3 separate regions of the Homo sapiens genome follow, and all the other regions are reported to be linked to region 2. Evidence: microRNA targets listed by miRTarBase, many of them from high-throughput screens and not tested one by one. Region 2 holds a microRNA gene; each other region holds the end of a gene's coding sequence.

What was found. Region 2 holds the annotated microRNA hsa-miR-548an (AAAAGGCAUUGUGGUUUUUG, at 815-834, opposite strand). A microRNA usually pairs through its seed, bases 2 to 8, with sites in the 3' UTR of a target mRNA and lowers its output. Matches are read on the target gene's strand: a 7mer-m8 pairs with bases 2 to 8, a 7mer-A1 pairs with bases 2 to 7 and ends in A, and an 8mer does both.
Region 1: miRTarBase lists SDC4 as a target of hsa-miR-548an. Seed matches in the 3' UTR shown: 7mer-m8 at 1,836-1,842.
Region 3: miRTarBase lists GNAT1 as a target of hsa-miR-548an. Seed matches in the 3' UTR shown: 7mer-m8 at 2,977-2,983.

The regions. Positions count from the first base shown.
Region 1 is chr20:45,324,599-45,327,854 of GRCh38, reverse strand. It overlaps SDC4 (syndecan 4), which reads left to right. Exons shown (of 5, transcript NM_002999.4): 5 at 440-2,567. The coding sequence ends at 591. Among named protein-coding and RNA genes, the nearest start is that of MATN4, 18 kb to the right of the region's middle.
Region 2 is chrX:106,637,416-106,640,661 of GRCh38, reverse strand. MIR548AN (microRNA 548an) reads right to left here and starts at 848; the gene lies at 766-848. RADX (RPA1 related single stranded DNA binding protein, X-linked) reads right to left here. Exons shown (of 14, transcript NM_018015.6): 8 at 2,738-2,902; 9 at 975-1,135; 10 at 1-110.
Region 3 is chr3:50,194,666-50,197,921 of GRCh38, forward strand. It overlaps GNAT1 (G protein subunit alpha transducin 1), which reads left to right. Exons shown (of 9, transcript NM_144499.3): 8 at 100-291; 9 at 603-3,031. The coding sequence ends at 290. Among named protein-coding and RNA genes, the nearest start is that of GNAT1, 4.7 kb to the left of the region's middle. RefSeq lists enhancers at 1-250, 303-834 and a silencer at 57-116.

The DNA of each region.
Region 1 (3,256 bases), not on the chromosome of region 2:
CTGGCCAACATAGTGAAACCCTATCTCTACTAAAAATACAAAAATTAGCCGGGCATGGTGGCACGTGCCTATAATCCCAGCTACTCAGGAGGCTGAGGCAGGAGAATTGCTTGAACCTGGGAGGTGGAGGTTGCAGTAAGCCGAGATCACGCCACTGCACTCAGCTCGGGCAACAGAGTGAGACTTCGTCTCAAAAAGAAAAAGGAGTGGCCTTACCACTAGCCCTGTGGTCTTCAGTGACTTAAAATGCCAACGACCCACTTCTTATAACTGGGGTCATGAGGTCAACTTAAATAAGGCATCAGCTTGCCTGGCACAGGCAGTGGTGATGGTGAGGATGTCTGGTTGTAAGAGAACTGACAGTGGGGGAAAGAGGGGTTCATCCTTAGGTCCTGATGAGGAGCTCTCACCCCCGCCTCTTCTCTCTCCTCCTCTCCAGCTCTGATTGTGGGTGGCATCGTGGGCATCCTCTTTGCCGTCTTCCTGATCCTACTGCTCATGTACCGTATGAAGAAGAAGGATGAAGGCAGCTATGACCTGGGCAAGAAACCCATCTACAAGAAAGCCCCCACCAATGAGTTCTACGCGTGAAGCTTGCTTGTGGGCACTGGCTTGGACTTTAGCGGGGAGGGAAGCCAGGGGATTTTGAAGGGTGGACATTAGGGTAGGGTGAGGTCAACCTAATACTGACTTGTCAGTATCTCCAGCTCTGATTACCTTTGAAGTGTTCAGAAGAGACATTGTCTTCTACTGTTCTGCCAGGTTCTTCTTGAGCTTTGGGCCTCAGTTGCCCTGGCAGAAAAATGGATTCAACTTGGCCTTTCTGAAGGCAAGACTGGGATTGGATCACTTCTTAAACTTCCAGTTAAGAATCTAGGTCCGCCCTCAAGCCCATACTGACCATGCCTCATCCAGAGCTCCTCTGAAGCCAGGGGGCTAACGGATGTTGTGTGGAGTCCTGGCTGGAGGTCCTCCCCCAGTGGCCTTCCTCCCTTCCTTTCACAGCCGGTCTCTCTGCCAGGAAATGGGGGAAGGAACTAGAACCACCTGCACCTTGAGATGTTTCTGTAAATGGGTACTTGTGATCACACTACGGGAATCTCTGTGGTATATACCTGGGGCCATTCTAGGCTCTTTCAAGTGACTTTTGGAAATCAACCTTTTTTATTTGGGGGGGAGGATGGGGAAAAGAGCTGAGAGTTTATGCTGAAATGGATTTATAGAATATTTGTAAATCTATTTTTAGTGTTTGTTCGTTTTTTTAACTGTTCATTCCTTTGTGCAGAGTGTATATCTCTGCCTGGGCAAGAGTGTGGAGGTGCCGAGGTGTCTTCATTCTCTCGCACATTTCCACAGCACCTGCTAAGTTTGTATTTAATGGTTTTTGTTTTTGTTTTTGTTTGTTTCTTGAAAATGAGAGAAGAGCCGGAGAGATGATTTTTATTAATTTTTTTTTTTTTTTTTTTTTTTTACTATTTATAGCTTTAGATAGGGCCTCCCTTCCCCTCTTCTTTCTTTGTTCTCTTTCATTAAACCCCTTCCCCAGTTTTTTTTTTATACTTTAAACCCCGCTCCTCATGGCCTTGGCCCTTTCTGAAGCTGCTTCCTCTTATAAAATAGCTTTTGCCGAAACATAGTTTTTTTTTAGCAGATCCCAAAATATAATGAAGGGGATGGTGGGATATTTGTGTCTGTGTTCTTATAATATATTATTATTCTTCCTTGGTTCTAGAAAAATAGATAAATATATTTTTTTCAGGAAATAGTGTGGTGTTTCCAGTTTGATGTTGCTGGGTGGTTGAGTGAGTGAATTTTCATGTGGCTGGGTGGGTTTTTGCCTTTTTCTCTTGCCCTGTTCCTGGTGCCTTCTGATGGGGCTGGAATAGTTGAGGTGGATGGTTCTACCCTTTCTGCCTTCTGTTTGGGACCCAGCTGGTGTTCTTTGGTTTGCTTTCTTCAGGCTCTAGGGCTGTGCTATCCAATACAGTAACCACATGCGGCTGTTTAAAGTTAAGCCAATTAAAATCACATAAGATTAAAAATTCCTTCCTCAGTTGCACTAACCACGTTTCTAGAGGCGTCACTGTATGTAGTTCATGGCTACTGTACTGACAGCGAGAGCATGTCCATCTGTTGGACAGCACTATTCTAGAGAACTAAACTGGCTTAACGAGTCACAGCCTCAGCTGTGCTGGGACGACCCTTGTCTCCCTGGGTAGGGGGGGGGGAATGGGGGAGGGCTGATGAGGCCCCAGCTGGGGCCTGTTGTCTGGGACCCTCCCTCTCCTGAGAGGGGAGGCCTGGTGGCTTAGCCTGGGCAGGTCGTGTCTCCTCCTGACCCCAGTGGCTGCGGTGAGGGGAACCACCCTCCCTTGCTGCACCAGTGGCCATTAGCTCCCGTCACCACTGCAACCCAGGGTCCCAGCTGGCTGGGTCCTCTTCTGCCCCCAGTGCCCTTCCCCTTGGGCTGTGTTGGAGTGAGCACCTCCTCTGTAGGCACCTCTCACACTGTTGTCTGTTACTGATTTTTTTTGATAAAAAGATAATAAAACCTGGTACTTTCTAAACTGCTTGCCTCTGTCATTTTCGTTCATAACAAGTCATCCTTTTTGGGCTCTGTATCCCCTTGATCTCAGTGGAGCATGAAGAAACTCCCCGGACCAAATCCCCTACGGGGTGCCAGACATGCCGGGGGTGGGCAGAGGGTGGGGGCAGAGAGGTAAGAAGGCAGGAAGGGGCCTAGAGAAGAGGGAAGACTTCAGAACATGCACCCTGATGGCCTATGCAGCATATCACCCCTACTTCAAGGTTTTGTTTAGGTGGCACTGTGTTTAAATAGCAAACACAAAAATCTTTGCGTCAGTTGCCATCCATAGAAATCAGGAGGTTTCTCATAAAAATCCAGATTTCTCACTTTTCTTGGGAAAAAGAAATAAAAAAAATTGGCAACTGTCAGCCTGCATGGCAACAAGAGAGCTGCTGAGCGGCAGGCACCCATCTAGATGTGGGCTCTCCGCACCACTGTCTCCGCCTGCTTCACTCAGGCCACTGCTGCAGCCAGGCTGGCTGGCAGTCTCCGGAAATAGCATGGGCCATCTTTCTTGACCACTATAACAACCCTGTGAGGTGGGTAAGATCCTTGTTACCAAGAGGGCAACCTGCCCCTAGTGTGTCTGGAGAGTCGAACCTTAATTTCAGGTCCTTGGACATTGGTGATCTTCCTTTGGCACCATGTTGCCCAGTACTTTGCTGGGGT
Region 2 (3,246 bases):
GTAGTTTGGAAATACTGAGAATTCACAGGCTCATCATCTTGATGCCGTTTACCATTTCTTTCTTGAATTTCTACTCTAGCTGCTTGAGAGGTCGAGGGTCTGTTAGCATTCTAAAACCAATAATTTAGAGAAAACACTTTAGGCTAATTCACAATTATTAATCTCATAAAAGACTACAATTTTAGTGTATTCATTTTTCATAATCAACAGTTCTGGCAAAACTTCAATCATAACAGTGCTTTTATGAAAATGATTGAATCTAATCCATCTGCTATTAAAATATTTTTTAAAAGGAAGACAAACAAAAGTCCTTCTTATACTACTATCTGAAAAGCTGGATTAAACACTTATTTCCATATAAATAGTAGTAGTCCTGGACGTAGTGTTTAAAAAGATAAACTCATGGGAAAAATTAACTTGTCTTGATTGTGCCAATATTCCAGAACTGGCATCTTCTATAATACTAAACTATTTATTCTAGAAGAGTTATAGAACCTGGGTAAGACTACTATGCCAGATATAGAGAAAACTTCCTATGAAAGCTTTCCTGTAGTACTGGCCTGGACAAAAGGTAGGAAATTAATATAGTCATAGATACCACCTAGAAATTTAAAACACCCACAATAGCCTCAAATTACACAGAATGCAAAAACAGGATACCAAGTTTTGAGGGCCTTGGGAAATGTCAAGAGGCTATAATCATTATTGGCCTAGTCTGCCCCCAAATAAATGACACAAAAAGGAAACAAACAAAAAAGTAAAAATATTAGGTTGGTGCAAAAGGAATTGCGGTTTTTGCCATTACTTTTATAGGCAAAAACCACAATGCCTTTTGCACCAACCTAATGTTTTCTCTTAGGCTTACATTATTAAGAGTCAATACACGTGAGTTCTGAATAAAATGTAAAAGGTACCAATTGCAATCATAATCACAGTGCTTTCAGAGAAATACTATTAATTCTCTGGCACCATACCCGAAGTGTTTCTGATGCTGAGGCACTTTCAGTCGCACTGCTATGGGGGATATACTTTATAGCAGTAATTATCCCCTGAATTGCAATGCGCTTTTGTTCCCTATACTGCAAGTCTTCAATCTCCTTCCTGACTTCACTTATAGCTGTCAAGAGCGACTCAACTGCAAAAAAGTCCAAGAAAATTGTAAGTTTTAAAGAACTGAAATGATAAAAATAAGAATTAGATTTGCAATGTAATTTCACAACACAAAATTATAAACTTACTACATTAACTGTGAGACACTGTGTTTATATCTGGCATCCTTCTATATAATTTTGTGAAATAGGCAAAATACTTTTATCAGTTAAATTTGAATACAGGCTTCCACTCTGTACCCCTCATTTGCAAAATAAATTTTGCATATTAAATGCAATTTACATATTATATTTCAAACTATAAAGTGTTGCCTAGCCACTGCATAGAAAAACACATTTTAATTATTTCAAACACTATTACATATTGCTAGCATTATGATGTATAAGAGGATGCCAATATTTAGATGATGATAGGTCCGCATTTTAAAGTTTCTCTTTTTTTCCAAAACCATGCAATTATCTCATAGCTTTTTAAAAAAGAACATGCTTGTGCTAAACTTTTCAACTGTCATATATTAATTCTACTAAAAAGTATATTAATAGTAGGCTTCTCATCAGTACTTCAATTCCAAATTCAGCATCTCATTTATTTTGGCATCATTTCATATTTAAAGATAGCACTCAATTGTGTTAAACACAATATATATCATTCCACAAGAGTCGCATAATACAGTTGTCAGTCTCTGAATATCAAGTTACCCAGTGTCTCCTTTAGATATCTTTAGTCTTTCTGTATAACATCATAGCAATTGAGATCTACACCAAGGTCAGATGTGATCTCAATGACATTAAATAAAGATATTTATAGGTTGAACATCCCTTCTCTGAAATACATTGGACCAGAATATTTCAGATTTCTGATTTTCTTTATTTTGGAATATTTGTATTATACTTATCAGTTCAGCTTCCCTAATGCAAAATTCCAAAATCTGAACTGCTCCAATGAGTAGTTCTTTGAGTGTCACTTCAGTACTCAAGAAGTTTCAGGTTAGGCCGGGCGCGGTGGCTCACGCCTGTAATCCCAGCACTTTGGGAGGCCGAGGCGGGCGGATCACGAGGTCAGGAGATCGAGACCATCCCGGCTAAAACGGTGAAACCCCGTCTCTACTAAAAATACAAAAAATTAGCCGGGCGTAGTGGCGGGCGCCTGTAGTCCCAGCTACATGGGAGGCTGAGGCAGGAGAATGGCGTGAACCCGGGAGGCGGAGCTTGCAGTGAGCCGAGATCCCGCCACTGCACTCCAGCCTGGGCGACAGAGCGAGACTCCGTCTCAAAAAAAAAAAAAGAAGTTTCAGGTTTTGGAACATTTCAGATTTCGGATTTTTGGATTAGGAATACTCAACCTATATCTCCAGTTGGTTATCATCTGTGTTTTCTCTTTTCTTCCAGTCTGATAAAAATCAAAGTATTAATCTTTAGAGCACCATGCGAGATATAGGGAAAACTATATAGAAAATACGTGACATATATTTTTAGATCTGCATTAAGACAAAGCTATTATCGGTGAATGTTGCTAAACTTTAGATCACTCCCATAAAAGAAAAGAATAAAGATGACTAATTGAAATAGCATAAGCCATACATATAAAATATAAACATATTTAGAAGGACTGGCAATTACATTAGTACCTTTAATAGAACTACTATACTTGGAAAATGTCTCTGGCACTGGTGGATAGGGGTAATATCCACCAATAACCATATTCTTCTGTTCCCCGGAATCAGACTTTGTTCTAATCCATTGAATAAAGTTTTTTACCTTGGCATCATACGTATACGGCTGGCCTCTATGACCTCCTCGCGGGAAGGGTAAATCATAAAAAATGAGAAATAAAAATGTCACTGTAACAATCTGTATGCAAATTTTTGTGTAAAAACAGTTTACTATTAAAACAATCCCTCTTTTATCACCAAGAAAAAAACAGTCAAGTTTACTTATTCACTATGTATAATTATCCAAAGACAGTAAATAAATCCTAAGAAGAAAATCAGACACACTGTGTATTAGAGTTTAAGTGGACTAAACTGTAGCTAGCTATAAGATGCTAGAAATCACAGGAAGAAGAAAAACTAATAATTTGAATTTTTCTAACCATCCAAATGGTTGACATCTTCTGAAATAACCGATTTTTAAACTA
Region 3 (3,256 bases), not on the chromosome of region 2:
GCAAGGCCGCCAGGCGGCGCCCCCGCCCCACGATCGCGGCGCGCACCCCCCGCACGGGGAAGGAAGGGCTGAGCAGAGTGAGAGCTCCCGCCCCCGCAGGACCCAACACCTACGAGGACGCCGGCAACTACATCAAGGTGCAGTTCCTCGAGCTCAACATGCGGCGCGACGTGAAGGAGATCTATTCCCACATGACGTGCGCCACCGACACGCAGAACGTCAAATTTGTCTTCGACGCTGTCACCGACATCATCATCAAGGAGAACCTCAAAGACTGTGGCCTCTTCTGAGGTAGGTCGCTGCCCTCTCCAGGCTCTTGCCTCAATACCCCAGCCCCGTCCAGCTCCCCACCCCACACCACGGCCCTGGAGCCTCACCCCCAAATCCTGGAGCCTACTGCCTCCAGGCCCCACCCCAGCTCCTCAGGCTCCACCCCACCGACAGAGGCCCCGCCCCACCCCACAAGTCCCACCCATTGAATTTCTTTTGGCCCCGCCCCAAGACCTCAGGTGTCACAGCTTCCAGGGCCGCCCCACCACACACAATGCCTAAACCCATTTATTTTGGGTCTCAGGGATGCTGACTGGGTTTCCTTTTCACAGGTGCCTGAATTCATGCGTGTCAGTCACCCTGAGACCTGGTAGCCCTAGCTGCCTTGCAGCCCCAAACCCCAGGACCCTATCAGCCCCCTGGGACTCCCTGGCCCCAACCTGCCACCTCACCAAAGCTCTGAGCCCTGCTAGCCTTGAGGCGCGGACCCTCCCCCATACCTCCCACAGTATCCCAGCGCCTCATGCCCCCAACCCCAAGCCCTGCCCTTCACCGCCCGGCTGCACTGGCCTCTAGGACTCACAGCAGCCAGCCCCAGCTAGGAACGGGCAGGACTTGGGGCAGCTGAAGCTCACGGTGACTCAGCAGTGCCCAACTGACCAATCTCCCGCAGCTCTCCTGCCCCTGGGGGCCCACGACTCACCTGGTGGGCCTGGGCTCAGCAAACAGCCCTCCCTCCCAGTATTTCATCAAGGACAGGGAATATCCCTCCCACACACAGGCCAGCTGCTCACCCTGCCACCTCCATGTGACAAGTTTGACACCTGTCTACCCAGAGCCAGTGACTGTCCCTCCCAGCAGCCTCCAAAGGGTCCAAAGTCCAAGCTAGCTCTGGCCTGTGTGGCCCCCACATAAATAAATTAGTGGGGAGGGGGCAGACCTGGGGGCCCTTGGGTGCCAGAGTGAGACACAGCAGGACCCTTCCCCAAATACTAGGCTCAGAGCAACCTCCAGCCTTCTCCAGCAGGATCTGCTCCCTGTGTCCTTGGACAGCAGATCCACACACCACTTCCCCACCCACACACAGTACCCTGGGCTGGTTGGACAACAGGATGGTGTGTTAAGGGGTTAAGGGAGGGTACTGTTGACACCAGCTATGGCCAATAGCTGGGCTGTCCTGAGGGGTGGCTGGGGACAGAGTCCAGCTCCCTTGGATCAGCCCAGAGGATTCAGGATAGGACAAAGGCCCTGGCTGTGCCCAAAAGGGTCTACCTCAGGTGGGGTTACAAGCAAACCTGGGTGACCCTCTTGTCCCTACCAGCAGCTTCTCTTGCCCCTTCCATTCAGGGTTCCCTGGCAGGGGAAGCTGAGAGCCATGGCTGAACTATCAGGGACAAAGGCCCATGTCCCCACATCCCTGCTCCCTCCTTCCTCATCCAGCACCAAATCTTTGCTTATGTCCACAGGCCAGGGCCTGTGCTGCAGTCGGGGACAAGGAGCTTCCGTCTGGCAAGGCCGGGGCACAATTTGCACTCCCCTCAGCTAGACGCACAGACTCAGCAATAAACCTTTGCATCAGGCTCCAGCTGTCCTTTCTTGGTGGAGGACTTAATTATCACAAGTCATGGGCATTTATTAAGTGCCCAGTGCTGGGTTGGGCATGAAGTGGGAAGATGGCCCCTCCCAGGAAGAAGTACCTGGCCTGACAAGGTGGGGCACTCTTGGGGGTATGGGACCAACTCATGGCTTTTCACGGGAGTTGAGGAGAGAGGAGCTGTGGAAAATATTCACTGGGACAGTCTTGGATCAAGAGGGAGTTTTGAGGTGGAGGCTCATTCTGGCAGGGACCGTAGTGTCTACCAGCCCCAGAAACATGGGCTTATGGCCACAGGAGTTCAGTGGAGCAAGAGCAGGGGAGGAGAGACGTGGACAGGTGCCCAAAGCCAGTCGGAGGGCCTGGGCTTTCTCAGAAGGTGATGGAGAGTCTTGGAAGCCCTCGAGGCAGGAACATAATTGCAGGGCTGGGATTAGGGTGAGGGAAGTGAGGCACACTCACCTTGGGTGCAACATTTAAGGCGATGCCAAAAAATTTAGTAACCAAGGTAAATAATATTAGGATAATATTTTTAAAAATCAAATGAATGCAAAACCCCACAATGAATGAAATATCAAAATCCAACAGAGGATCAAACAGAGGCATGCTAAGATATATTGGGGCTTGAAGCAAAGGGAAAACTATTTGTTGCTATATGTTTGTAGGGATTTTTTGCCAGTTTTAAAAATACATGTATCATAAAGTTTACTATCTCAGCCACTTGCCGGTGTATAGTTTGGTGGTGTTAAGTACATTCATAATGTTGTACAACCACCGCAACTGTTCATCTCCAGAACTCCTTTCCTCTTGTAAAACTGTAACTCTGTACCCATGAAAAAATAACCCCCCATTCCTGCCTTCCCCCGGCTCCTGGCATCCACCATTCTACTTTCCATCTCTATGAATGTGACTGCTCTAAGTGCCTCAGATGTGTGGGTCCATGAAGTCTTTGTCTTTTTGCAACTGGCTTATTTCACTTAGCATCATGTCTTCAAGGTTTATTCATGTGTAGCATATGGCAGAATCTCCTTCCTTTTTAAGGTTGAATAATATTCCATTGTATATATTCCACACTTTGTTTATTTATTCATCTATTGATGAATGGTTACATCTGCCTTTTGGCTATTGTGAATAATGCTGCTATGAACATGGGTGTACAAATCTCTCTCCCAGCCTCTGTTTTTTATTATTTTGGGTGTATACCCAGAAATGGAACTGGCAAATCATATGGTGAATCTTTTTTTTTTTTTTTTTTTTTTGAGACAGAGTCTCTCTCTGTCGCCAGCCTGGAGTGCAGCGGCACAATTTCGGCTCCCTGCAACCTCCGCCTCCCAGGTTCAAGCAATTATCCTGCCTCAGTCTCCTGAGTAGCTGGGACTACAGGCACACGCC